Homo sapiens: one gene and its partners. The protein of the gene in region 4 purifies or fractionates together with the protein of the main gene of each other region. This does not show direct contact. Each region holds a gene or a part of one and is shown on either strand. Other genes may lie near its edges.

Region 1 (6,824 bases), on a different chromosome or scaffold from region 4:
AGCTTGTTGACCTTTCTTTGTGTTATCTGCATGTTGTAACGTGTGATAAGAATGAATGTAAAGGCTGTGGCAACTGTAATTAATTTTTGTAAAGGGCTGGTCACACGTGGATCTGGTTTATGAATGTATTTGGGATGATTTTAGTAACCAGATCACCTTTTCAGAAATTTAGATGTGAACACCAAAAGATGCATTTTCTCAACAAAAATTAATAGCTGGTTCTATTTTTTTAAACCTAGAAAAAATAAAGTTGATTTTTTTCAAAAAAAAAAAAGATTAGTTCAACTTTATACCAAGAAATAATAGTAGAGCTACTTGTTGAAATACCACCTCCTAGTGGTAAGGTCATCTTATTTGTTTTATAAAGCACTGGGGTATAGCATATTTGGCCACTGTGCTATTTTTCACAATTTAAAATTACAGTTGGATAAATGGCCCAGTAAGTTTTAGTTTGATAGTATTTTCAAAAAGGTATTTCATTAATGTTTATTTGACTTACAAACTTAATTCCCCTTATTAATAAAATAGCAATCAATATTTCCTATGTGCAGTTAGTAGCAGTGCTTAGATTAAAAACAAAACTTTAAGAGGAATAAGTTCTAGTGTTCTATACCACTGTAGGATAACTATAGTTAACAATAGTATATTATATAGTTTGAAATAGCTGGAAGGAACATATTAAATGTTCGTAACACAAAGAAAAATGTTCGAAATGATAGATATGCTAATTACCTTGGTCAGATCACTGTACATTATATGAATGGAAACATTATTATGTATCTCATGAATAGGTACCATTGTTATTTATAAATTTAAAATAAAATTAAAAACAAAAACAAAACTTACTAGAAATCTTTGTTGTTGTACCCCAAAAGTCCTAGAAACCTACATACAAATATGTGAGAGTGACAGCTATCTTGTAGACACAATAAGATGATTATTTAATAACCTGATAGTTTGGAGTTACTAAATCAACACTTTTCATTCAGTAAAGCAGCAAGGAGACAACCTTTCATTATATACTTTGGCAGAGATAATCCAAAATCAGATAATCAAAATAATTTTTATTTGGTTGTAGAATGTTGTAGTACATAAAGCAAAATGTGTCTGCAGGATACTCCAAATTTACCAACTTCAAACAAAATAATGCACAGTGAAGAATTAGAAAATTATCAACCTTACTCAATACATGGAAGTATTCCTTAATCTTCATCATTTTCATTAAACAAAATAATATTTTGGATGAGTTCAACATTTCTATCCTATGCTTTATGTTTAGTGCCTTCCCTGAATTGGAAAAAATGAGGTGTTTTATTTAAATTTAACACTGGTCTAAGGGAGATATAGAATTAAACTAAACAAGAATCGGTTATCACAACCTCACAACATATATCAAAGTATTGAGATTGTTGGTTTACTGACTGTCACTTTTCACTGGATATTAAATATCCTGAGGGCTACAACTGTATTTTTTAACCTGTCCCAGTACCTCAACAAAATTTTCACTGAATGTATGAATAAATTATGTTAACAAAAAGTTAACAATAAAAGTATAATGAAGATCCCTTTAATTAATTTTAAAATCTGAAAGGAAAACTGGAGTCACAAAACATATGTTCAAATCTTAATTCATCACAAATTTTGTGATTTTTGACCTCCACCTCAATGAAGCTCAGTTTTCTCAGCTGAATAAAAGGGATAATGCCTGTGTATTTCAGAGTAGCTGTAAAGGTAAAATGAGGCAATGTACATGAAAGTCCTTTGGAAATACCAAACAAATGTTATTTGCTATCATGCTACCACATATACATGTAGGAAATATATGTATTAAATAAGAATATTTTTAAGATGCAATGTGATAACTTACATTAAATATATATACAATTTTTCCCAAATGAAAACTAACCTAATTCCTCTCTTTAACTGACAAACACACTCAAAACTGCTCATCCAAAAAAAGTCCCTTCCTTGAAGATGTAGTCCCCAGCTTTTTCTCTTCTCTAGTAAATGCTGTCAGAAAAGAGTTGACACCTATGCATCTTCTTCCTAATGCACTGAAAGCTGACTCAATGACCACTGCCTATAGAACAGTTTCAATATGTTTAATCCATTGATTTCTTTTAAATTATCACTTTATTTTATCCCTGAAGATTTCTTTTTGAGTACTTTCCACACCTATCCTGGCTTCTTCAAAACAACTACCCTTTTTTTCTTACTTCTGTGACTATAAGGTTGTATTATTGGATCTCCTTTTTTCTCATCCTAATTTCTGCCTAGATGATCAAACCTGCTCCAATAGAATCAGGTATCATCTCTGTATTGTAAGCTTTGAAATATTTGTCTCTGTCTCAGGTTTCCTCCTAATTTCTAGGTCTATATTTCTAATTATTAACCAAAGATTTCTATCTGGATGCCCTTCATTCTATGTAAAGTCAAACTCATTATCCTTCTCTCTTTTTCCAAACCTTCTCCCTCCCTTTGTTGCCAATCTTGGTAAGCAGCCAAGCAGAAATCTTAGAGTCATTAATGACTTTTCCACTCTTCCTCACCTCTTACTTCCATTATCTAGTAACAGGATCTATTGATTCCATCTCTTAAATGTCTCTCTAATCCATCTACTCTCTTCCCTATTTTAATTTCCACTTCCTTCATTGGATCTTCATTATTTCTTTTTGAAATATTTTGATCGCCTCTTATCTAGTCTCTATGCTTTGGTCTCACACAATTTAAATCCATCCTCTTAAATATGATGCCATGGGAAAAAAAAAAAAAACATCCTTACTTTTTTTTTTTTGGCTGCCTACTCATTGCCTGGAAAATAAACTGCAAGCTCTTTGACATTGCATTTGAGACCCTTACTTATCTGTTTCCAACCTGTTTTTCCAGCCCTAACTCATGCCCACACCCTTCTCTCTCTAGAATATGTTATGCACTTTCAGTTTCATGCCCTGGTTCATGGTGTTCCCTCTACCTGTTATGGTTGTTCTTCATTTGTCAAAAACCTCTACATCTTTCGAGCCCATGTGATATGTGATTTTCTCTGTAATATTTTCTCTATCCTGCTTCTGGGTAAAATTAACCTCTATTCCTTATGTTCTCTTCTACTGCTATTAAAATTAAATTTAAGTTGTAGAAGTGTTTATCTCCTTCACTGTATCAGACTCAAAGGAAAAAGTTGTGTTCATTTTGATTCACATATGCTTAACACAATGCCTGACCAATAGAGGGTATCCAATAAATACTGAACTGAACAAATCTATTCCTGATCTGTGTAATAAACAGGGAGAACAAACTTTAAGAATAATTCTCATGCATAAAACATATTAGCTACAACATACTGATTTTTGTCAGTTATTATTACAATTAAATGAAAATCATTTGGCTTTGAATAATAGTAAAAATATACCCAAAAGATGAATTATCCATTGTAATCCATTTGGTTTTAAGTAAATCAAACAGCTAAATTTCTCTCTTGCAGTCAGTTTGGAAGGAGGCAGGAAGCAGTTATACAAAAATCCAGTCAAGTATCTGTAAAATACATAGAAATCAAATATGAGACGCTTACTGGTGTTATTAGAATATCAAGGTAAGAGTCATGAAGTCTATTAAAGTTTTTCTGTAAGTTAAAGAGCTAAAAACATTGTAAAGAGTAAAAAATAATATTAATTCAGCTAGAAGTAACCTTAGGGAAAATTACACATATCTTATAGGGGCAGTGCTAAATCAGTGCCATGAAATATTTTTGTATAATTCCAACAAAACCATCTCTAATAAATACTATTTTAAGAAAATTACACTCAGTCTTGCTGTATGACTTTAGATCATGTGTCAGTGTACTATAGCCTATAGGCCAAATCTGGCCCCTTACCTGTTTATTTTACTGTTTACAGACAGGGTTTATGTTATCCATGCTGTACTCAAACTCCTGGCCTAAAGCAGTCCTCCCACCTCAGCCTCCCGAGGAGCTGGGACTACAGGAGCAGGGCCACTGTGCCTGGCTCCCTCGCCTGATTTTTGTAAACAAAGTTTTATTGGAACACGGACATATTCATTCATCTCTATGTTGTCAGTATCTCTTGTTGCTCTACCTCTACAATGGCGAAGCTGAGTAGCTGAGATATACTGTATGTCCCACAAAGTCTAAACTACTTACTGTCATTTTAAAATAAAAATTTGGGCAACTCCAACTGCAGATAATCATTTGGAAATCTAGTTGAAAATCAAGCTAGTTTCTTTGTGAGAATTTCTTATGATTCTAGAATTCAGAATGTTTATGCAAAGATTTGTTTTCAAAAATAACATGAAAGTTATAAGGATGTGAGGATAGGGAATGTACAGATATCAAGTACATAGTAGAGAGAAAGGAAATACTTACATACCTTTTTAAAGATTAAATTGTTTTATTTTTATACTTTTAACATAAGCCTGCCTAATTATTCTTCATTAACTAGGAAAAGGAGTGGCTGCTCTTCATAATAGAGTGTTATTGGAAATGAACGTTGCTACCACTATTACATCACTAAAAAAGTAGAAACATCATTCTCCCTGTAGGAATAAAGGAGTAAAGTTTAACATAATTAACTTTTTTTTTTTAAATAAGGGGAGGAATAGGCTAAAAGAGGAAGAAAGAGAAAGGGAGGGAGAAGTGGAGAGAGGGATGAAAGAGAGGAAAAACGGAGAGAGGAGAGAAAACCTACTGTACCTCATTCTTTAATTGATATGAAGCCAATCTGTGTACCAAAATTAAGGCCATCTCGGACATGGGAGAAAAACTTGTCAGGATGGCAAGATGTACAGAGGTTGAGATCTTGGTTCTGGTCCTGAATATTCTGTGGAAGAATTCCTCCCTGTTCTAGAAGAATCCTTAGGAAAAATATTTTTCAAAAGAGAGCAAGAGTTTATTTTCCCAATAGCCAAAGCAATATGAAAAAAAGTATGGATGTTGGCATGAAAAAGTTCCAGGAAAGATGTACCTAGAACAATGTATATTGTTATTCACTTACAGAACATGGACTAGTCAGGGAAAAAAATGCTACACTTTATCAGCATTTATCACCTAAGTTCATATATGCACAGTACAACCTTCCATATTGTCTTATAGACATAATCTAGGTACAGAATTTTATAATCAAAATCAAGTGCTTATTTAAGAAGAAATGTCTACAAAAGTTACCAGGATATCAGGCAAAATTCACCTGGCTCAGCCAGAGTATGCTTTTTAGTCATCTGGCCCTTCATCTCCTTTCCTTCTATTAGCCAGATTTTTCTCAGAAAACTTGCTTCTCCATGAACACTTTATGATATGAAATATGACTACAAGTTAGTGATACTTGATTTTAAAAGTCACATTTAAGAATCAATTTCAAACTTTTCCACATCTGTACTAAATGAGGCAGACTCTGGGTAAAGTTTTGGCGACTGGAATAGAAACATGATTTAAAACATACATTAATTTGCCTTTGTAGTAATGACAAATAATTTTCACCAGTTATTAATAACAAAACCTTGTAAATTAAAAGATGCGAAGAACTGTAAAAAACTTAAAAGTAAAAAACCGTGTATTTATATTATCTAATATTTTTTCTAAAAAACATATTCCTCTAGTTAATTAGATAATAAGAATAATTTTAAAATATCAGCTTCCTGATAGTTCATTACATTTAGGAGAATTTAGCTGAGGAATGGCTGTGAAGTAAAGTACACGCCAACTTTTCTATATGAAGTTTAAGTAGATCTCTTAAAATTAAATGCCAAATATTTCTTCCTTCACTTTTAAATCAATGAAAGATACCAGACAGGAAAATTTCTGTTATTCAAACTCAAATGAAAACAGATTTCATATTTAAAATGAGTGTTTGTGTACATGTGCATGTCAGCTGCTTAAATAACCACCACCTAAATTCTTCTTAGAGTTATTAATTGTTCTCCAAAATAAATTTCATTTTAGAACAATCAGAAATAATCAAACTTGCAGTTGAATGAAATCAGACATACCTTGTGGCTTTACGGATGTCGATACAGGGATTTGGTGAATCAAATAGTTGTACACATGCAGGATGAAGATTATGAAATGCCTCTGCTGATTCCCTTGGAAGAGTAAAACAGCAAGGTCCTACTGAAGGTCCAAGTACAACAACAATGTCTTCCAAACTGCAGCCATATTCTGCTATCATAGCATTCACTGTAGCCATAGCAACACCCAACAAAGTACCTTTCCAACCTGGTAAATAGGAATAAAAAGAGATAAGAGAAGTCAAAACATAAAAAATTTCACCTGAATTTATGTCTAAGTTAAAAGTGAGCAGATTTAGTTTGTATATTTTTCAAAGTCCAGAAATAATAAATTACATTATCATGTGGTTTTTAAATGAGCCATACTACACAAAGCACCTGACACAGAAGAGACATGTAATGGGAGTTTTCTTCATCTTCCATTTAAAGATGCTCTATACTTTTAGTTTCCACTGAGATCATAGCTTCTTAGTCTTCTATTTTTCACATTTTAAAAGATTGTGGTTAAAAACCCACAAAATTTACTATTATAACCACAAAAAAATACTATTCTAAGTATACAGTTCAGTAGTGTTGAACTCACATTGTTGTATAACCAATCTCCAGAATTTTTTCATTTGATAAAATGGAAACTCTACAACTATTAACAATAACTCCTTGTTTCTTCCTTTTACCAGCCCCTGGCAATCACCATTCTTCTTCCAGTTCCTGTACATTTGATTACTGTAGGTATATCATATAAGTGAAATCAATACAGTATTTATCTTTTTGTGACTGACTGATTTCACTTAGCATAATGTCCTTAAGGTTCA
Region 2 (8,060 bases), on a different chromosome or scaffold from region 4:
CCTGGCTGAGTCAAAGCCCTCTGGTCGGGAGGATCCAGGCAGTGGGGTCAGGGTGTCACCCAAATCGCCCCCCACTGACCAGAAGAAAGGGACCCCAAGGAAATCCACCGGGCGGGGAGAGGAGGACAGTGTGGCCCAGTGGGGTGACCACCCACGTGACTGTGGACGGGTGCCGCTGGATATCAAGAGGGCCTACTCAGAGAAGGGGCCCCCTGCCAACATCCGAGAGGGCCTGTCCATCATGCATGAAGCCAGAGAGAGGAGGCGAGAGCAGCCCAAAGGGAGGCCCAGCCTTACTGGAGAGAATTTGGAGGCCAAAATGGGACCCTGTTGGTGGGAGTCAGGGACTGGAGACAGTCACAAGGTAAGTACCGAGACACTTTTTAATTTTGTCAAACATGGTTTAAACATCTAGTCTAGGGGGCCGAAACTCAGATTTTGTGTGGCCCACTTTGGGTACATAAATGAGTGGAGTCAGGCTGGGTATGAGGCTCCAGGGAGGGGTATGGATTGTGGCAAATGGAGAGCTCATGCCCTATCTGAACTGGACAACTGCTGCTTGGTCCCACCTGGTTCTTTGTTTGTTTATTTGTTTGTTTGAAACAAAGAGTCTTGCTTAGTTGCCCAGGCTGGAGTGCAGTGGCATGATCATGGCTCACTGCAGCCATAATCTCCTGGGCTCAAGCCATCCTCCCGCCTCAGCCTCCCAAATAGCTGGGATGACAGGCATGCGCCACCATGCTTGGCTAATTTTTTATTTTTTGTAGAGACAGGGTTTTGCCATGTTGCCCAGGCTGGTCTCAAACTCCTGGGCTCAAGTGATCCTCCTGCCTCGGCCTCCCAAAGTGCTGGGATGACAGGCGTGTGCCACCATGCCTGGCCCAGCTGGTTCTTCACAGGCAGGAATGCTGGCCTTGAGATGGCAAACCTCATTTATCAAGAGAATCTGAAAATCTAGATTTTTATGTGTAATCCTCCCATTAGGAAATGAGGAGGACTTATTTTTAAAAATGCTGTTCAGCCCAAACAAGACTTGTCTGCTAGCCCCATGCAGCGCGCCGGCCACCTGTTTTACACTTCTGTCCTACAATGACGATAATGATAGATATCAATGGTAGCTTTATTGTGCTCCTGCTGTATAATAGCCTGTTGTATCCTGTTCATTATTATGTCCCCAGAATCCAGCATCATGCTTGACATACTGTGAATGTTCAAGAAGTATTTGTTGAATGAGTGAACAAGTGATCTTACGTGAGCCTCAAAAGAGGGATCACCATGGTTTTGGGTTCCAGCAGTCCCTTGTTTTTTTTTTTTTTTTTTTTTGAGACGGAGTCTCACACTGTCACCTGGGCTGGAATACAATGGTGTGATCTTGGCTCACTGCAACCTTCGCCTCCTGGGTTTAAGCGATTCTCCTGCCTCAGCCTCCCAAGTAGCTGGGATTACAGGAGCCCGCCATCATACCCGGCTAATTTTTTGTATTTTTTTTTTTTAGTAGAGACGGGGTTTCACTATTTTGGCCAGGCCGGTCTTGAACTCCTGACCTCGTGATCCGCCCACCTTGACCTCCCAAAGTGCTGGGATTACAGGCGCGAGCCACTGCGCCCGGCCTGTAAGCACTTTTTAAGGGGGTGATCCCAGGAAGAACCAGTAGGGGAGAGAAGAAGTGAGGCAGGTGCTACAGGGGCCATGGTTGGCCACAGAGGCACATCTCACTGGGGACCCCGGGAGGCAGCATGGAACACCTCTGAAGTTGTCATGTCCAGGGGTCAAGGGACCTGGAGTATGTATTTTCCAATCCCTCTGTCCTTGCCTGAGGCTGTTTGTGGGGTCATGAACATTCAGACTTTTCCATCCTGGCTGGCACCATGCACAGCAGAAGAAAGAAAATCTGGCTTCCTTTGTTCAGTGAAGAACAGAGAGAAAGAGAAGAATGGATGGCAGGGTGGGGGGTGGGGAGGAAAGGAGGAAGGGATCACTTTAATTACAAGCACACCCTTTTGGGGGTACATAAGCAGAATAGCTGTGAAGAAACCCTCACCCAAATAAGCCACTTTGTTTTTAACACACACACACAAATTCAAATCTACCCAAATATCTATCAGTGAGGCTCTAGGGTGTTGGCAGAGGGCCCCTTCTCTTGATCTTTGGCATATACCTGAGTGTTGGGCAGAGTGCTGACACTACCTACTGCTGTGTGATCATCTTCCTGTACAGATGGGGGGAAAAAAACAGAGGCTCAGAGAGGTGAAATAACTTGTCCCAGGTCACACAGCAGTAAGTAACAAAACTGGTATTTGAACCCAAATCTGGCCTTAATTACCCAACTGGGCCATATTCTAGGAGACCATTCTGGTGAAGAACCACGAAGGTGGGGAAGAAATCTGAGGCATAAGGACCACCCTTTGAAGCTTCTGATCTCTGTGGGGAGATGGGCCATTGTGATCCAAGACTGGGGAGTGATGGGGTGCAGAGGGAGGCACTGGAGAGGTGGCCCAAGGTGTCCTGGAGGAGTCGGTGGTCTCAGCCCAAGCTTGAGGGTTGGCCATGCTTTTGGGTGGGCTGATGAGGGGAGGTGAGGGCATTCTCAGCAGGGCACAGCATGGACAAAGGTTTGGAGGTGGGAAGAGCGTAGAATGTTGTGGGGGACATGTGGAAATGGACTTAGCACCGCCCTGTGTGATGTGGCATCAGCAAATCAGGCCACAGATTCTTCCTTTGCCACTTGCAGCTGAGTGATACAGGGCAAAACCTTTCACCTCCCTGCACCCGAGTTTTCTTGTCTGTAAAAGGGACTAGGTGGCCAGTCTGGAAGTGGATGCTGCAGAAAGGAAACTCTAGGATACAGTCAGTAATGATCATGCGGTGAGGATTTGCCTTCAGTTAAGAGTGGGTAAGTGATGGAGTCAGGCTTTGAACCCATGTCTGTTCCCAAGAGGCCAAGCTCTCCAACCACCATGTGCAGGATCACGCAGACTTGGCATCTGAATCTCCACGCTGCTACTTGCCTGCTGTGTGTAAAGCAGCCTCTTGGCCTCTCCTGGCCTCAGTTGCCATGCCAGAGTTAACAGGGATTCCTGCCCCAAAGCACTGTTATTAGACTGAATTGAAATAAAGCACCGAACTTGGGCCATCCCCGTGTGCTTCCTGAGAAGGGTTTCATCTGTCCCTACCTGCAGGCTGATGTTGTGGTAACAGTGGAAGAAGGAAGAGGCCAAGGAAATGCGACACTTATGTTTGCCAGCACCTTGCTCAGGGCCCGCTGGTGGTGGGGGAGTCGGGATGTTGTGGAGGGGGGATCCTGGGCTCAGCTCTGTCCCGCAGCCCAGCCTTGGATGCCTGCCTGGAGCACGCAGGCCCCAGCAGTGCTGGTTGTCAGGGGATCTGTTTTCTCACCACGGGATTGGGAAGCCTTGGACCAGCTTCCCGTTTCTCTCTTGTCTCCTGCCAAAAGATCTTTGGTTCTTTGATCTTAAAAAAAAAAATAAAAACACACCAATACAGAAGGAAAAAATGTTGGTTGTTAAAATTTTGAACCTTACAGGGGTATAGAAAATAAAAGGTGAGTGTTCCCCCAGAGGCAGCCACCATTACATTGTTTATGTCCTTTCGGACTTTCCTATATTGACAGTCACTTATCAATCATATATATATGCATAATTGTCATGCTTTTCATATTGCAACAGTAGCGAATGCTTGCGTAAAATGTGAAATACTGGCTGGGCACGGTGGCTCATGCCTGTAATCCCAGCACTTTGGGAGGCCGAGGCGGGTGGATCACGAGGTCAGGAGATTGAGACCATCCTGGCTAACACGGTGAAACCCTGTCTCTACTAAAACTACAAAAAAATTAGCCGGGCACAGTGGCGGGCGCCTGTAGTCCCAGCTACTCCGGAGGCTGAGGCAGGAGAATGGCGTGAACCCGGGAGGCGGAGCTTTCAGTGAGCCAAGATCACGCCACTGCACTCCAGCCTGGGCGACAGAGAGAGACTCCGTCTCAAAGAAAAAAAAAAATTTTGAAATACTATAGAAAAATGGTGTAGAGAGAAAATCTCCTTTAAATATTGAGCGTGGTGCATAAACTGGGGAACACCCCTCTAGGCCCATTAGTGGTTTTTAACTATGGGCAATTTTGCCCCTGGGGCACATTTGGCAGTGTCTGGAGACATATTTTGTTGTTGTCACACCCTGGGAAGAGGTTGCTATTAGCGTCTCATGGGTAGAAGCCAAGCATGCTGCCCAACATCCTACAAGGCACAAGACAGCCCCCACTGCAAAGAATGCTCCAGCCCCAAGTGTTTGCAGTTTGTAGGTTGAGGAACCCTGGTCTAGACACAGACATAGATAAAGGTAAATGCATAGACTTAGATATAGGTAAATACATAAGCTTTCTATGGAAAACTACAACAGTCTATAGAAAATCTTGTGGCTTACTTTTGTTTTTTGAGATGGAGTTTTGCTCTTGTGGCCCAGGCTGGAGTGCAGTGGCAGGATCTTGGCTCACTGCAACCCCCGCCTCCCGGGTTCAAGTGATTCTCCTGCCTCAGCCTCCTGAGTAGCTGGGACTACAGGTGCACACCACCATTCCTGGCTAATTTTTTGTATTTTTAGTAGAGATGGGGTTTCACCATGTTAACCAGGCTGGTTTTGAACTCCTGGCCTCAAGCAGTCTACCTGTCTTGGCCTCCCAAACTGCTAGAATTACAGGCGTGAGCCACTGCACCCGGCCTCCCCTTCCTCTTTTTAATGGTTGCGAAGTATTGTATTATGTGACTGAGCCCAATCTATTTTAACCTAGACTCTCATTGATGGGTATTTGGGTGGATTTGAATTTTTGTGTGTGTTAGAAACAGGGTTGTGCCGGGTGCAGTGGCTCACATCTGTAATCCCAACACTTTGGGAGGCCGAGGCTGGCAGATCACTTGAGGTCAGGAGTTTGAGACCAGCCTGGCCAACATGGTGAAACTCCATCTCTACTAAAAATACAAAAATTAGCCGGGCTTGGTGGCGGGTGCCTGTAGACCCAGCTACTTAGGAGGCTGAGGCAGGAGAATTGCTTGAACCCAGGAAGCGGAGATTGTAGTGAGCGGAGATCGTGCCACTGCACTCCAGCTTGGGCAACAGAGCGAGACTCTGTCTCAAGAGAAAAAAAAAGAAGAAGAAAAAGAAACAAGGTTGGTTCCTTGGGTGAGGGTTTCTTGATTTACAGCCCAAAAGGGTGTGATGGTCATTAAAGTGATTCCTTCCTCTCTCCATCCCTTCCTCTCTCCATCCCTTCCTCTCTTTTTCTCTGTTCTTCACTTAACAGACATTTATAGAAACTGTTTCCCAGACCCAACAGTATTTCATTTATTTAAATTATTTATTTTAGTTTTAAGAGAGAGACGATTTCACATGGCTCCACTCCAAAAATACTTAAAAAACATTCCCCTGATACCTGCCATGCTTACATTTCTTCCACCCGGTAATCACTTTTATTCCTTTTTTTTAAATTCCTTTTTTTCTTTTGAGGCTTCTTTATGAAAATACAAGCACATAGAAATACATATTTTTATTTTTGCTTCACTTTTCCATAATAAAGAGCACTTTCTCTAAGTGGTTGAAACTTTGGTTGCCTATGGGAGTAACACAGGGAATCCTAAAAGATATCAATGACTGGGCCTCTCTCCAGGCCAGTTAGGTCAGAATCTCTGGGGTAGGACCTGCCTTTGTTAGTTATGAAGGCTCCCCAGGGGAATCTTGGGTTGAGGATCTCTGTTGAACCCACAGATTTTCCACCTTTCTGTTTTTCATATAATGTGTCTTGAGAGTTTTTTTTTTTTTTTTTGAGCCAGCGTCTCACTCTGTCACTCAGGCTGGAGTGTAGTAGTGAGATCATGGCTCACTGCGGCCTCAACCTCCTGGGCTCGAGCAGTCCTCCCACCTCAGCCTCCCAAGCAGCTGGGACTACAAGCACATGCCACCACACCTGGCTAATTTTTTTTCTTTTCTTTTTTTTTTTTTTTTTGAGACAGAGTCTTGCTCTGTTGCCCAGGCTGGAGTGCAGTGGCATGATCTCGGCTCACTGCAACCTCCACCTCCTGGATTCAAGCAATTCGCCTGCCTCAGCCTCCCGAGTTGCAAGGATTACAGGCATGTGCCACCTTGCCCAGCTGATTTTTATATTTTTAGTAGAAATGGGGTTTCACCGTGTTGCCCAGGCTGGTCTTGAACTCCTGACCTCAAGTGATCAACCTGCCTTGGCCTCCCAAAGTGCTAGGATTACAGGCGTGAGCCGCCACCACCACCATGCCTGGCCTCTTTTCCTTTTTTTTTTTTTTTTTTTGAGATGGATGGAGTCTCACTCTATTGCCCAGGCTGAAGTGCAGTGGTGTGATGTCGGCTCACTGCAATCTCCACCTCCTGGGTTCAAGCAATTCTCCTGCCTCAGCCTTCCAAGTAGCTGGGATTACAGGCGCTCGCCACCATGCCTGGCTAATTTTCGTATTTGTAGTAGAGACGGGGTTTCACCATGTTGGCGAGGCTGGTCTCAAACTCCTGACCTCAGGTGATCCACCTGCGTCGGCCTCCCGAAGTGGTGGGATTACAGGCATGAGCTACTGCGCCTGGCCTTCCCTTTCTTAATGGTACCCTTTAAAGCACAAAAGTTTTTAATTTTGAAGAAGTCTATTTTATTTATTGTTCTTTTGTTGTTTATGCCTTTGGTATCATATTTAAGAAATCACTGCCTAAGCCTAGCTCTTGAAGATTTACACCTCTATTTTCTTCTAAGAGTTTTCTAGCTTTAGCTCTTACATTTAGGTCTTTGATCTATTTCAAGTTGATTTTGGTATATAGTATGTCAGATTTGCAGCATGTTTTGCAGGTAGAGTCTCAGCTTTGCTGATGCAGTGGAGAAAAGTGGGAGAGAATGGGGAGGAGAATGGAGGGCAACCCGAAGGTCTTGGCCTCCCCAGCTGGGGGATGGATGGGCAAGGTGTGGGAGGAGCAACTGTGGAGAGATGGAATCAAGACGCATGTTTTGAGCACGTGGATCTGAGATGAGTGTGAGCTTCCAAGAGATGTTGAGTGAGCAGTGGGATCTCCGAGTCTGGAGTTCCAACACTGAGAAACAGAATTGGCAGGCATCTGGGTGTAGATGGGATTTATTTAAAGCCATGGGGGGCGTGAAGAGAGATCCCAGAGGGAATGATGTAGCAAAAGGAGAAATGGCTCTGCGGCTGGCCTGGGACATGTGGGGACACTGATCAAAAAGAGCCAGGGGGTTAGGAGGAAAACCAGAGGGTCTCTGAAGGCATCCAGAAAAGAGGCTGTGAGGGAAGGGATTAGAAATCCAGTCTTCCTCTTCCTGGTGCTGTGTGTTCTTAAGCAGCTCCCTCCCATCTCTGGGCCTTTGTTTCCTTGTCCACGCAGGGAGAGTGTGAAGCATATAAAATATGCATCCTGGAGTCCTGGCCTGTGAATGTTTCCCCTATATATAACTAAGTGGAAAAAAACAGCAGGATTCCAAGTAGATGTACTGGAGGTGCTGTGCTGTTCATGCACCGTTTCTCTGTGTCTATGCATGTGTGTTTGGGTGCATAAAGAGATGATTAAAATAAGGTCACCAAGAATGACCACTGGCAGTAATGAGGCCAGCCAGCATTTATGGAGGGCTCCCCAGGTGCCAGGGATGGAGGAGGCTAGGGTAAGCCAAGCCAGGTGCCCAGGACTTGTGCACGTCTGCCCCCTGGTGGCTATACTGCATCATGTACATTCCATGTGCTGTTTCTTAGCGCCTAGAAGCTGGGTGCTGTCATCATGGGGTTCCTTTCCCAGATAGTTGAGGCTCAGAGAGGTTGAGGCACCCACCTGAGGTCACACAGTTATTAAATGGCTGAGGCTGGGCCACTGGAACCCAGAGCTACCGCCCTACATGTTACCTCTGATCATTAAAGTGGGGGATTTCTGGGGGTTTAATTTTCTTCTTTGCCCTTTTTGGTACAGAATGGACTCTTGGCATAATATATTTTTTCCTGTAAATGAGAAGGCTCCCAGTAAAGTCCTTTTCTTGTGCTCTG
Region 3 (8,060 bases), on a different chromosome or scaffold from region 4:
ACTGGCACATGCTCCGGGCACGCCCTTTGGGAAAGCAACTTAGCAACATGTATCCCTACCCTCTTCCTCTGCAACCCAGGCACCCCTCTCTCAGCTATGGAATGAGTCGTTTAAAAAATAGAGATGTCAGGGTTGGATGCGGTGGCTCAACCTCGTAATCTCAGCAATTTTGGAGGCCAAGGCAGGAGGATTGCTTGAGGCCAGGAATTCAAGACAAGCCTGGACAACATAATGAGACCTTGTCACCACAGGAAAAAAAAAAAAATTAGCTGGGTGTGGCGGTGCATGCCTGTAGTCCTAGCTACTCAGGGGGCTGAGGCAGGAAGATTGCTTGATCCTGGGAGTTCAAGGCTGCAGAAAGCTATGAACGTGCCACTGCACTCCAGTGTGGGTGATAAGAGTGTGACCCTGCCTCAAACAATCAAGCAATCAATCAATAAAAATAGAGATGTCTATAATCTAGTACCAACGTGATCAACTTCAAGTCAATGATCCCAGCTTTACCTGTTAACCTGGTTTCCCTGGAAACTATAAGAGACGCTTCTTTCTAAATTAGGTGTTTCTATATTTTAAAAATATTTACCAGCATGTGTTTTCTTTATGGCCTGGAAAAATTAAACAATTTTCCTAGAGAGGAAAATAAAGCCTAGAGAGACACCATTCCTGCTGCGACTTAAAGCAACGTACAATCCCTCCGTGTCTGCTGGGAACTGGTTCCAGGACTCCCCTCGGATATCAAAACCCGGGGATGGTGTAGAGTTTGCATGTACCCTATGCACATCCTCATGTACACTTTACATCATCTTGAGATTCCTTATAATACCTGATGCAATGTAAATGCTGTGGAAGTCTTTGTTGTACTGTGTTGTTAAGCTCATATTATTTTATTGTTGTACTATTTATTGTTATTATTTTGAGTATGTTCAACATGAGGTTAGTTAAATCCAAGGATGCGGAACCCGTGGATACAGAGCACAGTCTACTCTTATTTATATTAGAAAACCTGCAGTCCTGAGAATAAAAGCCACAGGGAAAAGTTAGTCCCTGATAAGGCAGTACTCCCTTACAGCCACCTGCATTACATATGAAGATACTCCATCCCCAAGTGCTAGCACATCTGCAGATAAATGAAGACACCAGTGAGGAAGACTTACCCACAGAGGCCTGCAGAAAGGGCATCACAGGGCCGGGTGCCTGGCTCAGCCCCTCTCTGCCCTGCCTGTCTTTCTAATCCTTAGTACCTGGCTCTTCTAGACGGCGTTAGACCCAGGGGGAGGCTCCAAGGTGTCACCAGCCCCAGTTTACTTTTGTGTCAGGGAGGATCAAACACTTGGCTCATCGGTAACAACCACAGCAACTCACTGCTTAGACACTGGGTGCCATGCTCTGTGTTAAAGACTCTGAACCAATCCCTACATCTTCAACCTGATGGCACTGTTATCTACCCCCATCTCACAGACAGGGAGGCCCAGACTTGCAGAGTCTAGGGGAGTCCCCACCCCACCCCATAACAGGCCAAGGACCCTCAGAGCCAGGGGTTAGCAAACCAGGGCCCCAGGCCAAACCCCAGCACCCACTCGCTCTTGTTAATAAAATCTTGTTGGTAGACAGCCACAATCATTCTATTACATCATGTCCATAGCTGCTTTCGTACTGCAAAGTCAAAATATTTACTATGTGGCCTTTTACAGAAAAAGTCTGCCAATGCCCGGTCTAAGCAAATGCCGAGTGAAAAGGTCTAGATCACCATTCTCTGGTCCTGACTCCCCCGAATTCACTATTTGGGTACTCGAGCTTGAACTCAGTGTTTGCAGCATGAGTGGCAGATGTTTAGCAATGTTCGCTAAAGGATCTGGGGTTACCTTTGCCTCGGTAAGGTCAGCAAAAGGCCTTTTATTTGTACATTCATTACCTAAATCACCCCACTGTATCCTTACCAACTCCATCTCAAATCATAATAAGGAGGACAGAAAATGAACTCCTTAAGCTTAGTACTTCCTAGGACTTAACCTCAAACACTACGAGAACAATACTTGCGGCAACACCGATCTAGAAGATGAAACCACTTGTTTCTCAAAATCATCACTGTCCCCCTAAACCCCTGCACCCCTAGCAGTGGGACAGCAGACATCATCACCTCTGGTGATGGGCGCACCCTTCTTAGCCCGGCCACAGTGCCCCGCTGTATGGTCAAAGCAGTCTAGATGTCACTGTGAAGACATTCTTAAGATGAAGGCGACACTCAGGCTGGGTGTGGTGGCTCATGCCTGTAATCCCAGCACTTTGGGAGGCAGAGGCAGGTGGATTGCATGAGCCCAGCAGTTTGAGACAGCCTGGGCAACATAATGAGACCCGACTCCACAAAAAAATACAAAAGGTATCTGGCTGTGGTGGTATGCATCTGCAGTCCCAGCCACTCAGGAGGCTGACGCCAGAGGATCCACCTGAGCCATGATCATAGCACTGCATTCCAGCCTGGGTGGCAGAGTGAGATGAAGGAAGGAAGGAAGGAAAGAAAGAAGGAAGGAAGGAAAGAAAGAAGGAAGGAAGGAAAGAAAGAAGGAAGGAAGGAAAGAAAGAAGGAAGGAAGGAAAGAAAGAAGGAAGGAAGGAAAGAAAGAAGGAAGGAAGGAAAGAAAGAAGGAAGGAAGGAAAGAAAGAAGGAAGGAAGGGAGAGAGGGAGGGAAGGAGGGAGGGAGGGAGGGAGGGAGACATTTACATCAGTAGACTTTGAGCAAAGCAGATGACCTTCATACTGTGGGTGGGCCTTGTCTAGTCGGTTGGAGGACTAACAGGGAAAGACTGAGGTCCCCTCTGGAGGAAGGAACTCCGTCTCCCGATGGCCCTCGGACCCAAGATGGCAACAGTGGCTCTCCCTGGGTCTCCAGCCTGCCCTGCAGATTTGAGACTTGCCAGCCTCCAACAATCATATGAGCCAGTTCTTTACAATAAATCAGCTTCTCTCTTTCTCCCTCTATGTATCTATACACACACACACTATCTGTAGAGAGAAATGGGATCGGAAGGATACGTGTATACAGACATACACATACGCATACATCTGTCAGGAGTGTGCGTGCGCGTCCTACTTGTCCTGCTTCTCTGGAGAGCCTTGACTGGCACATGACTGTCTGCTGGAGGACCGGCATCTTGCTGCTGGAAGGGGAGATTCTGGCGTTGGCTACAGGCTCCCCTGAACCCAGCAGGGTGGGGACTACATGCACCCTCTAGAGCCTCCTCACTCTCTTCCCAGTGAGAGTCATCCTCTCAGCTCGTGGCAGGCAGATCGGGACACACCATGGAGTCCACAGGTGCCTGTTGATTGAACAAAAGGCCTGAACTTCCCCACTGTGCCCTGCTACCCTTGACACTGGTGTGACAGCACGAGACTCCTGCAGGGCTGGCCAAGGGGCTGGACACCGGCACCCTTGCTCACTGCCACAGGAGCAAGCTCCAGGCAGCGAGGGCCAAGGCCAGGCCAGGTGGAGCCCACTCTCTCTCTATTCCTCTCTGTCTCTGTCTTATTTTGCCTTGCCTCTATATCCAAGCCCCAAATCACATCTCTTGTTTTTTGCTACAGGCCTCAAAAATGTACACAATTCACAAAATGTCTCAAAAATGTACACAATTTACAACTTAAGAGATAATTAAAGTAAGAAATCCAAGCACTTCCCGTATAAAAAGTCCAAATCTCCAAAGCAAGGGCTCTGGCCAGAACCAAGAAGGGTGTCCTCGGGTCAAGAAGGCCCTGGGGCCACAGGGCTCTGCTGGGTGGAGGTGCCAAACCGCAGCGCCAGGGAGGTTGAGGGGCCGGTTCTGAGTCTGTCCTCCTCCTGCAGAGGCGGATTCCTGGATCACCAGGAGGAAAGGTGACCCCAGATTCCTTTCTTGTCCCTGAGGCCAGTGAGCTCGGCCACAGGCTGTCTCAAATGTCCAGTGTCAAGGGGACAGGGAGAAAGGGGACATCATCAAGAAAGACGTGAGAAAGGGTTGGTTGGCAGGAGTCGGAAAGCCCTCCCACCTGGGAACTCCCTCCGCAGGGTAAAGACAAGGCAAACACTGGCTGATGAGCCAGTAATCTCCCTTTGTGTGCACCTGCCTGGCCGCCAGTGGGAGCTGTTCCAGGCCACCCTCCCAGCCCCTCCTGTTGCTCAAGGCTGTCCCAGCGCTGCAGGCCCTCATCCTGTGCTGACCTTCAGGACTCAAGGACCCCTGCCTCCTGCCTCCCGGGCCTCCCCACTGCTGGCCCTTGTGCTCAGACACACGGCAAATGCCCGTGAGCTCTCCCCTTAGCATCTGGGCAGCTGATGACACGGACACTGTGCCTCAGTCGAAAGGGAAACAGGGTTAGAAGCCAGCCGATGGCGTCCAAGCCGGGGCTGCCGACTTCATGACCTGTCTGCAATTCCCCAACACCGAGGATCATCAGCACATAAACCGGGAGAATCCTTGGCCACCGGGAACCTGCCCCGCCTGGGTGATGGATTCCTGGGCAACAGGAGAGACGCCCTGCCCTGCACCCCCTGCTGGGAGGGGAGGTCCTTCCCCAAGGAGCTGCCACTGGACCTCTGGGGGACCCCCACACTCCACCCTCAGAACCCCCCAACACCACCTGCTGTCTCTAGGTTTCGGGGACATCAGGGGCTGTGCCTGAACTCCGGATAGGGCTGAACTCCCCGTGCCCTCACACCCGTGGTCGCCTTGCGAACCACGTCTCCCAGAGGCCCTCTCAACCACAGCGACCCGCCCTGTGCAGGGCCTCCCATAGGGAGGGGGATGCCCTGGGGCGTTTCTCGCCTTGGGAGAGCAGGGAAGCCTCAGTGCCGAGAACTTGGGCACAGACGAGGCAGAGTGGAGCGCGGACCAGAGCTCGCCCCCCAAACACGGCGGCTCCAACATGTCGGTGAACGTCCGGCGGTGATGAACATGATGCACAACCAAAGCGATGGGTCCTGGCCCGGGTTTTGCGGGCAGCCCCTGAATTCCCCCCAATCCCCACCCCGCCCTCGATTTGTTTTTTGGCTGTTAAAGAGACTTTAAGCCTTTAAGAAATAAAAGATGCCAAGAACAGGGTTGGGACGCTTGAACTTTCTTCCCTCATTCTGTCCAGACTAATTTTCTTTTCATTTCTAAAATCACAGAGAGATGACACCAACCACAAAACCGAATAGCAAAACTGGACTCTCCAAAGTCAACATCCCGCCCTCCCCTGAGTGACTCTCACTGTGATTAAAAGTGGGGCCTGGAGACTTCTGTCCACAGCCCTCAGATGGCTCAGGTTCCCATGGGGGCACAGGGTCTGGGAAGCTACGTGTTTTGACTGGGCTCCTGCACAGGGTGGCATGAATGGCAGCTGTGGACAAACATATTAACTGGGCTAGAACTTCCCTGAAAACTGGGAAAAGTCCACCAGTATTCAACCTTGACAGCAAGACTGACATCTGCTGCTCCCGGGTGTAAGCCCAGTGCTGGGTGTAGTTTCCCACCTCCCCACCCCCAGTCACCCCCCTGCAACACCAAGTGAAGCTGCTGGAGGCTGGAATCGGGTGGGGGCTGCCTGACAAACACAGCAGCAAAGGGAGGCGCCCTCCAGCTCTCCCTGCTCCCCACCCTGCCTGGAGAGTCTGACACAGGAAGCCCCAGATCCACACCTGCCCTCAGGGGCTCATGGTGTCCACTCAGGGTCCCCTGGGGGACTCAGGACTGGGTCTAAATGCATGAGGTCACATCAGAAAGGCTGGCCTGCTGGACCCCATCTTATTCCCTCTGCCCCCCAGGGTCCTCCTTCCACACCGCCCAGGGGTCCCACAGCCCCCAGAGCAGCCCTGAGATGGAGCTAGGGTTCTGCTCCAGGCGGAGATTAGGGAAGGAGGAGACTGAGACAGGGGCACTCTCGCCTCTACTTTGAGGCACAGAAGGGGCCGGGGCCACCCGCGCTGAGGGAAAGGCTGGCTTCTGTCCACACTCACGATGGTTGGAAGAGAAACTTAGGATGGAACCCCAGGGCACCACACAGGACGGTCACAGCAAGATGGCTTCGTCCAAAAGGATCCTAAAATCTCACGCTCCCTTCACAGCCCCTGACAAGGCGCTGCAGACACTGGGAGGATGGAGTGTGGGTTCCGGTGTCCCGTGCAGGGTCCCCGGCTCACTCACTCCCCTAGACAGAGGGCAACTTGTTCTGGGGAGAGCTTGGGAGAGGTCAGCTCAGCCCTGTCCTCCCCAGGCAGCAAGACAGGGGGATATTCAGCCACCGCTGGTCAGCACTGAGCTTCATCTCCATCTGTCCATGCCCCATGTAGCCTCCCTCGGCTTGGCTGGGGAGAGGGGGCCAGGGCTTGTCTGTGCTGCCAACCTCAAGCCCCCACTATAGATGAGAAGCCACCAGTCCTTAGTGAGACTGGATACAGGCGCTGCCACTCACTTCCTGGGGCAGCAAAAAGTGCACATGAAGCACTTTGGGTTCTCACGGCTCTTCCATGCGACACAATCCAGCTGCAGGGTCTGTGGAGCCCAGGGGACCGGCCCCACTCCCCTCCACCTGCCGTCTGCGTGTACTAGAACTCCAGGTACGAATTCACATAGATCCAGGGTCCTGCTACTGTACAGAGGTTTCCAGAAGCCCCTGGAGCCAACTGCCCCCCAGAACAGCACAATCGGCATTGTGCAGGTGTGGTGTGTGCATGTTTACATGTGTGAGTGGTGCGTAACTGCATGTGTGTGGTGCGCACATGTGTACATGTGCGAGTGGTGTGTAACTGTGTGCATGTGTGTGGTGCATGCATGTGTACATGTGTGACTGGTGTGTGCATGTGTGTGGTGTATGTATGTGTACATGTGAGTAGTGTGTAATTGTGTGCATGTGTGTGGTTTGTGCATGTGTACATGTGAGTGGTGTGTAACTGTGTGCATGTGTGTGGTGCATGCATGTGTACATGTGTGACTGGTGTGTGTGCATGTGTGTGGTGTATGTGTATGTGTGAGTGGTGTGTAATTGTGGGCATGTGTGTGGTTTGTGCATGTGTACATGTGACTGGTGTGTAACTGTGTGCATGTGTGTGGTGCATGCATGTGTACATGTGTGACTGGTGTGTGTGTGCATGTGTGTGGTGTATGTATGTGTACGTGTGAGTGGTGTGTAATTGTGGGCATGTGTGTGGTTTGTGCATGTGTACATGTCAGTGGTGCGTAACTGTGTGCATGTGTGTGCTGCATGCATGTGAACAAGTGTGAGTGGTGTGTAACTGCACGTGTGTGGCGTGTGCATGTGTACACGTGCAAGTGGTGTGTAACTGTGTGCACTGTGCATGTGTGTGGTGTGTGCATGTGTACATGGTGCGAATGGTGTGTACCTGCATGTGTGTGGTGTGTGCATGTGTACATGTGAGTGGTGTGTAACTGTGCATTGTGCATGGTGTGTGCATGTGTACATATGAGAGTGGTGTATAACTGTGTACATTATGGATGTGTGTGGTGTGCCCACCCCCTTGACCTCCAGCAGATGCGGCCCCTGGGCATTCCTGCAGGTGGGGACTGAGCGATGCTTACTTCTGACCACACAGAGGCCAAAGAACTGCGCGTCTCTGATGCTCGCCACGTTGCACACTTGCTGGAAAAGCTCGCGGCCAGTAGCCTTCACCTGCAAAAGAGGTGGGGAGGGGTTCAGGGAGGGGCCGGCACCTGTCCCCAGGGAGGCCACCTCAGCAAACGAGGCCCAGCGGGGCACCAGGTGGACGACCCAGTCAGGCATCCCCTGCAGGTAACAGGTCTGGGTCTCTCACTCTCTCCCAAAGCTAAACACCGCTGCATGCCCATCAGAGCACCTGTGAGTGCCGGGAAGTGAGGGTGGAGGGGGTGGGGTGCTCTGGACAGTGGATCAGGGCTGCCCCCTCCATCCCTGTCTGTCTCTGGTGTGAGGATTTCCCGAGACCAGTCAGGGACACACGATGCAGCGTCAACTCCAGGGCCGCCCTCTGGGCTCTGTCCTCGCACGGCACAAATGAATGCTTGGTTCCCCATGAGCGCGAGCATCGGTGTCTCACATCATCCATCGCCCAACTG
Region 4 (8,042 bases):
AGGCTGGACACGACAGGCTGGCTGTGGCCTGGGCTAGCCGGTGAGCTCGACAGGCAGCTCACGGCCACACAGGGCCTCCCACTGGCGAGCCAACAGCGAGATGAGCTTCTCTCTGCTCTCAGCACTGGGGACAAACACCTGCCACTGGACTTCACGGCCCTGGCTGGCTCTAGCCGGGCCACCTGGCACCTCCCCAAAGTGGTCCAGGGTGACACTGCCCATGAGGTCATGACCTTGCACGTCATCGAAGACGAGGGTGAGGGCCTGCGGGTAGGTCTGGTAGCCCATGAGCACTCGGTCCAGGTCCCGGACGCGGCGGCCATCGTCCAGCCGGTACCTGTCTCTCTGCGGCGGCTCTTTGGCAAACTCGGGCAGTGGGTAGTGGACACAGTCCTCATCCAGGAGGAAGATCTCGGAGCTGGTGAGCAGGAGTGTCTTGGGGCGCAGGGGGCCCCTGCAGCACCCAGGGGGTGGCATGCCCACCTGGAAGGCCTGCACGTACAGCAGGATGCTGAGGGCTGGGGCCTTCTCTGGCTCAGCCATCTTTTGGGCCACAGTGAACGTCAGGTCCCCAATCTCCTCCTCACTGGGGTAGGTAAACTTGACGCGACTAGAGTGGATCAGCTCGTAGTTCTCCATCTTCCCTGCAGAGAGATGCCACCTGGGCTATAGCCTGGAACCGGCCCCTGGTGGGGCTGGGAGCACCAAGGGCCCCAAGCCAACCGAGAGACCCCGGCATGAGACAGGCAGGAGAGGATGCTCCAAGTGTGGGGCCCACAGGCCAGGAGCCCAAAGCAGGCACTGGAGATGTGTCTGCCAGATGGTTGAGGGACTGCTGGAGTGGAGACTCTGCCATCGAAAAGCCCCACATAAAACCCTGGCCAGCTAAGTGAGAAAAGAGAGACATAGAGGCAGAGAGGGTTCTGGGGCACAGAGAGCCACCCTGGGGCCCATGACGTCTGTCCAGGCAGCCTGTCTGCAGCCTGAGCTAGACAGGGGTACCTGTGGTCTTGTTCCCAAACTCGGAGTAGAAGTCCTTGTCAACAGGCTCCGGCGAGGGCGTGCGTTCCAGAGAGGACAGCACGACCATGAGGTGCTGGAGGAAGCAGTGCGTCAGGTAGCTGTCCCGCGTCAAGCACGTGACCACCTGCATCGGGGTGGAACCTGCACGAGAAGGGGCTGGTCAGGGCCACAGGCCGGCGCTCCCCAGCCCTATCCCTGCCCCTTAGAGCCACCCCGAGTCCCTAGCAAGCCTCAGCCCAGAGGCCAGGGCCAGGAGGGCCCACACAGGAAAGAATCATGGGGCCCGGGAGGAGGCCATTCCTTCAGGCCGGAAGAGCTGAGGCATTTTTCTGGAAGGGGAGACAGAGACATTAGGCAAAGAGCTTAGCTTTCTCTCCTCAGGAAATGTGAGTCAGAAACATCCTGCCCGAGACCAGGGCCCACTCTGCTTCTGTCCGGGCCAGCGCTTGCCGCACACCCTACCTCCTGCTCTGAGCCCTGGAGCGTGAGTTCTGCTCTCTCAGCAGTTCCTGAAGCTGCTTCCTCCCACCCCGGTTAAGAAGTGGCTCTTGAGCACAGAGATAACTGTCTATGATAACCCACCCACGTACGGAAGGTGGAAGCCCACTGGTGATGCTGGCCTTCACCCGAAATAGGACAAAGCACAGAGGGTCACCCACCCGTCAGCCGGAAATGCTGGTCGAAAAGCCCCACATTGACTGACTGCAGGTCACTAAGCTTTAGCACGAAGCACTGGGAGATGTGGAAAGGGCTGTTGTTGTAGTCGGTGTTTTTCTGATGCCAGAAATCTGTGTGATGGAGAAAGGGACAGAGGGAGGCGGTGGCAGGCAAGCACAAGGTTCCTAGGTGTGCAGCACATCCAGCAGGAACAGGTCCTCTTGGCTGGCCTGGCTTCCACCCGTGCAAAGCCCCATAGGCAATGCCCTCTGGAGTCGGAGCCTCTTCCAGCTCAGGGGAGTCACCAGGTCGCTGGCTAGGGCTTCCTGTGCAGCCCCAGGGGCAAAGGCTGCCTAACCCCTTCTCATCACTGGCTGTTCCCAAGCAGTCACCAGGCCCTGGCTCAGTGCATTCTGCGTTCACATCTGGCCATGGACCCCTCCCTCATGACAGCTCCCTTCCTCAGACAAGGAACTCTCAGCCCACTGCAGCCAAGTCGCTGACTGCTGCCTGAAGCCACACAGCTGGCTCCAGAGAATGACCCCCCAGGCCTGCCCCAACCACACACTCCAAGCTCCTGAGCCCCAGCAGGCCCTGTGCCTACCCTGCAGTGGCTCTGAGAAGTAGCGGCGGAGGCCGTCGTGGAGCACAAAGTACACAGCCTTGGTGGAGAGCAGCACGCAGGCAGTCACCTCCAGCCCTGGGGTCTGGTAGAACACCACCGAGGACCACATGAGGTGCCTCAGCTCCTCGTTTTCAACCTGAAGACGGGGGGCCTCCTGTCAGCTCCACCACCCTAGCAACCTGCACATACCAGGGACATGCCCACAGCTTCCACAAGGAGACATGGGAAGCCCCTCTTGGCTCACCAATGAATCCGTATGCTTCAAGGCAGAGAGGAAGAGAGGGGTGGGAGATGGCTGTTGGTGGGAGGTCTACCTGGGGCTGGAAGTGGCACAGGAGGTGGTGACACAGCACAAATGGCCAGGGGAGGGCAACTCAGGACCTCACTGCCCAGGTCCTCAAAGCTGTGAGCAGCTCAGCTGAGGACTCCGACATCAGGGAAGTCCAGGGACCTGAGGCTGACCTGAAGCCAAGCTTGGCCTCGCCCTCAGGACTGGCCGTGCCATAGCTGGCACCCACACCCGGGCCGCTACCTCAGCAATGCTGCTGTGGAAGAGCTCGATGATGGCGCTGCCCCGCAGGCTGGCGACGTGCCGGAGCGACGGGCAGGCAGGCAAGTGCGAGGGGATCTGATTCTCCTCCGAGGTGGCCTGGATGAGGTGCTCACTCGGGTACTGGGCAGGGGCCTCGGCTGGGGGTGGGGCTGGAGCTTCCACTGGCGTCTCCTCTGGGACCAAAGCTGAAGTTGAGGCCTCTGCTGGGGCCGGAGTCTTCGCTGGGCCTGAGGCTGAGGCTGCTGCAGGGGCTGGAGCTGGGACTTCCGCTGGGGCCGGGGCCAGAGCCTCTGCTGGGACCTCCTGGGGACGCTGGTCATTGCTGTATCCCCCGAAAAACACCATATTAACAGCGGACCCCAAATGAAGATTCACATCGCATGTGCAGCTTCAGAGTGAGGAGACTGTGTGCATCACACATCACCTCTGGGTTACTGGGGACTTCCACCAGCTTCTCTATTGGAGAACAGAACAGCACGGCCGGGCACGGTGGCTCATGTCTGTAATCCCAGCACTTTGGGAGGCTGAGGCGGAGGATTGTTTGAGCCCAAAGTTTGAGACCAGCCTGAACAACACAGCAAGATGTTGAGGTGGGTGAAGCCTAAGGCAGATCCTGGCCCACAGAGCCATCCGTGGGACTGTGACCCTGGAGGAGGTAGTGCCCAGAGGCCATGCTTGGGCCCAGAGGAGCACAGCAGCCAGGGTGACAGCTCTCCTGGCCTCGGTGTGCTGCAGCCTGTTGCTCTCCCACTGGGCAGGCAAAGGTGGGGCAGCCCCCTTGGCCTGCCCTTCATGGGTGGCAAGAGGCTGGGCCAACCCATTTTGTGAGAGGACAGCTTTCCTGGGCTTCTTCTACAGCACTGAGATAAGGAGCAGCCTGGCACCAAACCTGGGGTGGTGATGTAGAGGGAGGCCCGGGGGGGGCGAGGGGCAGGGGGGGAGGGGGCCCAGCTCTCGCAGCAACTCCCAGCCCACACTAGCCGCAGATGCTGAGATCACACACATGCCAGACCCATGCCCCCGGGGCCCCTGAGAGCTGTGCTTGATCTCACCTGGCCCTGCGCTCGGCAGGCTGGCCATCCGCAAAGGAGCCCTGGGGGCTGCCTCCCGTCCCGGGGGTCTTGGCGATGACCACAGTCTTCAGGTCCTGCAGCGAGGCCCGCAGCTGGTTGTAGACGCGCAGGAAGTGGAACTTCTCGTGGGGCAGCACGAAGATGGCAGTGACAAAGCGGTACCCCACGAGCAGCTCTAGCACGTGGCCATCAGCAAAGGCGCCCCGAGGCTGGGTACAGCTGCGTGTGGGGTCCAGCAGCACGGTGGAGAGCGGCACACGGCTGAGCTTGAAGCTGTTGCGGTTGCGACAGTTGTGGGTGCCACGGTTGGGCATGGGGTTGAAGTCGGCCTTGATGACGTTGAGGTGCTGGGGCGTGAGCAACAGCCAGTAGGGGATGGCGGCGGACTTGACGGCCTCAGAGGGCGCGCAGCAGGAGCGCCGCACGGCTGAACAGAGTGTGCAGCTGGCCCACTCGATGTTGCCTGAGTAGTCCCCGGCGGCCGTCTGCACCATGCGCTTGTCACTGTAGACCAGGTAGACGGGGAAGCAGCCCTGGCTGCGCTCCTGGCAGCCGCCAGCCACCTTGTAGAAGGTGAGCAGCTGGCGCAGGAACTCCTGCAGGCTGGTGTGGCTGCCGTAGAGGATGGGGCTACACAGCATGGCCATGTGCTGGGGTGCAAAGCATGAGCGCAGGTCCGCGTGGAACTCGTGCAGGTTGGCGGCGTCCGAGATAATGAAGAGCGTGTTCTCACTGTGCCGTACCTTGAGCACCAGACACAGCTCCGGCATGAGGAAGCCAAACTCGGTGAGGTCGCCATGCGGGAAGCAAAAGACAAAGCGCAGGGAGGAGAGGATGTGCTGGCTGCTGCCCCGAGACTCCTGGTGCGGGATCTCGAAGACTGCGATGCCGAAGTCGGTGAGCACAAGGCAGGCGGCGAACTGGCGGATACTGCCCTGCACATGGATCAGGAAGCACCACAGCACCTTGAGGATGCGGATGTGCTCCAGCAGGAAGTCCTCGTCCGCGCCCAGGGCCCATTCCAGAGCCAGGCGCTCCTCCTCGGCCTCTTCATCCTCCTCTTCCTCCTCCTCTTCCTCCCCCTGGCCTCCTCCCTCCTCCTCCTCCACGTCTGGGGGCCCCATTTCAAAGTAGCGGTTCTCAGCCACGTCCTCCTCTTCTTCCTCCTCCTCATCCTCCTCCTCGCCCTGTTCACCCTGGCCCTCCTCCCGCTGGTTGGCAGCCTCGATCCAGGCAGGCAGCTGCCGCTCGATGGCCTGCCGGATCAGTGTGCTCAGGCGCTGGATGAAGTCCTGATTGGTGGCCGTGTAGCCAATGCAGGTGAAGGGCAGGAAGATGATCTGGCCAGACCCCGGCACCACCTGGACCTCCGGCTCGGCATGTTCTGGGCTGTGCAGGGAGAGGCCAGGTCAGTGGCATGCTGGGAGGGGCCCCTCCCACCTCCCACCTGCCACATCTGGAGCCCACTGCTACACCCTGACCCTGAGAAACCAACCCATGGGTCTCCCAAGCCTCCCACATGGCCAAGTCAGTTCCCAGGATGAGGGCCCTGGTGGGAGCCAGTGCTGCCTGCTGGAAGGCTGGGTCGCCAGTTTGGTCAGAGTCTATGCTTCTAGGGGCTTGGACCATAGGTGCCTGGCACAGCTATGCCCAGACCACACGAGTTCCCACAACAGAAGCACTCCCATGGACTTCTAAGTCATTCAGTTGCTGCCATAAGCCCCGGAGAGAAGGAACACTCCAGGGCATGAATCTACTTGTCACCCCTGGTGGCCTCCGGGGCAGGGAAGTGGGCTGGGGCAGGTCTTAGGACCTTCACACTTAAATTCCAGCTCTTCTTGGCCACCGCAGCCCTCACATGTAGAGTGGGAGTTAGTAAGCTTCTGTAAAGGGTCAGAGTACACATTTTGGGATTTATGGGCTACCATGTCCATACGATCTTCAGCAGCCCTTTAAGAATGTAACTGTCCAACATGGCGAAATCCTGTCCCTACTAAAAACAGAAAAATTAGCCAGGTGTGGTGGCGGGCACCTTGGGTGGCTGAGGCAGAAGAATCGCTTGAACCCGGGAGGCGGAGGTTGCAGCGAGCTGAGATCGGGCCACTGCACTCCAGCCTGGGTGACAAAGCAAGACTCAGTCTCAAAGAAAAAAAAAGTAACTGTTATTCTAGCCAGGCGCGGTGGCTCATGCCTGTAATTCCAGTACTTTAGGAGGCCGAGGTTGGTGGATCACTGGAGTTCAGGAGTTCGAGACCAGCTAGGCAACATGGTGAATCTCTGTCTCTACTAAAAATATAAAAAATTAGTTGGGCGTGGTGGCGTGCGCCTGTGGTCCGGGCTACTCAGAAGGCTGAGGCTGAGACAGGAAAATTGCATTAATCTGGGAGGCGGGGGTTGCAGTGAGCCAAGAACACGCCACTGCACTCCAGCCTGGGCGACAGAGCGAGACTCAGTCTCAAAAAAAGAAAAAAGAATGTAACTGTCATTCTTAGCTCCCAGGCTGTGGGCCACACACAGGCCTTGATTTGCCAACCCCTGGTGTAGGGCAACATGTGCTGAGCAGAGTTTAGGTATTAGAATTTGGAAACAGATTGAAAAGTCCATCTCATCTGTGTCTCTTTAGAGGAAGAAATAGTTCTATAGGCCTTCTGTGAACGGATTTTTAAAAAAACCTGACTGGCCACCCCTGGCCCACAGCAGTGTGTGTGCATAAGGCTGTGTGGCCAGGCCCAGGTCCCTTTCCAACCTCTTCCTTACCTTGCACCACCAACAGCTCCTGGCACGTCCCTTAAATCATCGGAAGCTGCCTGATGGAGAAAGAAACACAGTCAGTCCCCACCTACTGCAGCCAGCCCCAGCCATTTACTGGTTGCCAGACCCTGAGCTGGGCATTCTGCCCTCCATCACCGCCCTGAGGAGGCTCCCCATCCCCACGCTGTACCCTGGAGCCCACTCTGGGACCCTGGGGCCCACTCTGGGACCCAAGGGCAGAGACCCACTTGGTTATCCCACCAGCACACAGCAGGGCTGGGATTCCCACTCGCAACCTAGGGCCAGAGCCTCTCGCCACTCTCCAGGGATCCAGCATCTGACTGCTCCTTGTGCCACGCAAGGGTCCAGGTAGACAGTCTACAAATTTGGTCCGACCCTAACTGGCCAGCAGTGGACACAGCCCTGGCAAGTCCCTCCCAATGGTCTCTGTGCACTGGGGAATACCTAGGGCTTGGGAATCTCTTGCTGTGTGACCCTGGAAAGGGTGATGGCAGAATACTGTGGAGTACTGAGGACAGACAAGGACTCTGCAAACTGTCCCAGTGTCACAAGGCCATAACCTTGTGCTGCTGCAGAGATGGGGCTGGAGGGAGGCCCAGGCACCAAGCACATTTGCGAAGCACACAGCAAGCACCCTTGCTTTCCTCCTGTCTTTCCTCAGGACAAAGGAAGGGGCCCCAGAACTCTCAGTAACAACCACAGAGGAGGCGCCAGAGTGAGACTGTTTCCCAGACCACCAGGGTGACATGCGGAAAGGCGCCGAGTGGCTCCAGGGGTGCCAGGAAACAGAGAAGAAACCCAAACAAGCCCCTGCACGAGGGTCTTTTGAAATGCCTTCCCCAGGGAAGCCTGCTCACAGGGTCAAGGGCCACCCTCTCCACCTGCCCCCCTCGTGCCCTGGGCCCAGTGACAGAGAACTGCCTGTTCCCATCAACCAAGGTGGGTGGGGAAGGGAAGGAGGGAGGCTGAAAATAAACCCTTAACCACTGTGTTTGTCAGGAAGACACTCAACCAGAGACAGGTCCAAGAGAAAGACCGTGGCACAAAGCAGAGGACGCCAAACCCTGGAAGCATCTGCCTCAGCTCCAGCTAGGCCACTTCCTACTGCACACAACCCCAAGCAGAAGAGTCCACCCACAGATGTATGGTCCCCAGAAGCGGGAAGAGGGCATTACCTGTCCCGCAGGGATGGACTCCAAGGAATCAGAACATCCCTGGGCAATGGGCTGGTGCTCGGGAGTCAGACTGTCAGTGGACGAGAGGCTGCTGGCCAGGGCCTCCTCCTGAACGAACATGATTCCTGGAGAGACCAGGGCGGGTGGGCAGGCAGGCAGGGTGG

What was found.
Region 1: the proteins of NISCH (region 4) and LACC1 purify together in Homo sapiens (pull-down; one large-scale study listed by IntAct). This does not show direct contact.
Region 2: the proteins of NISCH (region 4) and KIAA1671 purify together in Homo sapiens (affinity purification with mass spectrometry, with the first as the bait; one large-scale study listed by BioGRID). This does not show direct contact.
Region 3: the proteins of NISCH (region 4) and FRMD1 purify together in Homo sapiens (co-immunoprecipitation; one large-scale study listed by IntAct). This does not show direct contact.

The regions. Positions count from the first base shown.
Region 1 is NC_000013.11:43,888,153-43,894,976, reverse strand, and holds the end of LACC1 (purine nucleoside phosphorylase LACC1), read right to left. Parts: intron 6,221-6,824; coding exon 5,995-6,220; intron 4,864-5,994; coding exon 4,704-4,863; 3' UTR 4,703-4,703; exon of another isoform or gene 4,698-4,702; intron 3,529-4,697; coding exon of another isoform or gene 3,375-3,528; 3' UTR 1,045-3,374; downstream 1-1,044. UniProt on the Homo sapiens protein: Purine nucleoside enzyme that catalyzes the phosphorolysis of adenosine, guanosine and inosine nucleosides, yielding D-ribose 1-phosphate and the respective free bases, adenine, guanine and hypoxanthine.
Region 2 is NC_000022.11:25,041,162-25,049,221, forward strand, and holds part of KIAA1671 (uncharacterized protein KIAA1671), read left to right. Parts: coding exon 1-364; intron 365-8,060.
Region 3 is NC_000006.12:168,067,698-168,075,757, forward strand, and holds part of FRMD1 (FERM domain-containing protein 1), read right to left. Parts: exon of another isoform or gene 8,051-8,060; coding exon of another isoform or gene 8,042-8,050; intron 8,036-8,041; exon of another isoform or gene 7,895-8,035; coding exon of another isoform or gene 7,823-7,894; intron 7,639-7,822; coding exon 7,548-7,638; intron 1-7,547.
Region 4 is NC_000003.12:52,484,474-52,492,515, reverse strand, and holds part of NISCH (nischarin), read right to left. Parts: intron 8,004-8,042; coding exon 7,879-8,003; intron 6,739-7,878; coding exon 6,689-6,738; intron 5,321-6,688; coding exon 3,911-5,320; intron 3,181-3,910; coding exon 2,838-3,180; intron 2,442-2,837; coding exon 2,285-2,441; intron 1,812-2,284; coding exon 1,683-1,811; intron 1,165-1,682; coding exon 1,003-1,164; intron 645-1,002; coding exon 34-644; 3' UTR 1-33. UniProt on the Homo sapiens protein: Acts either as the functional imidazoline-1 receptor (I1R) candidate or as a membrane-associated mediator of the I1R signaling.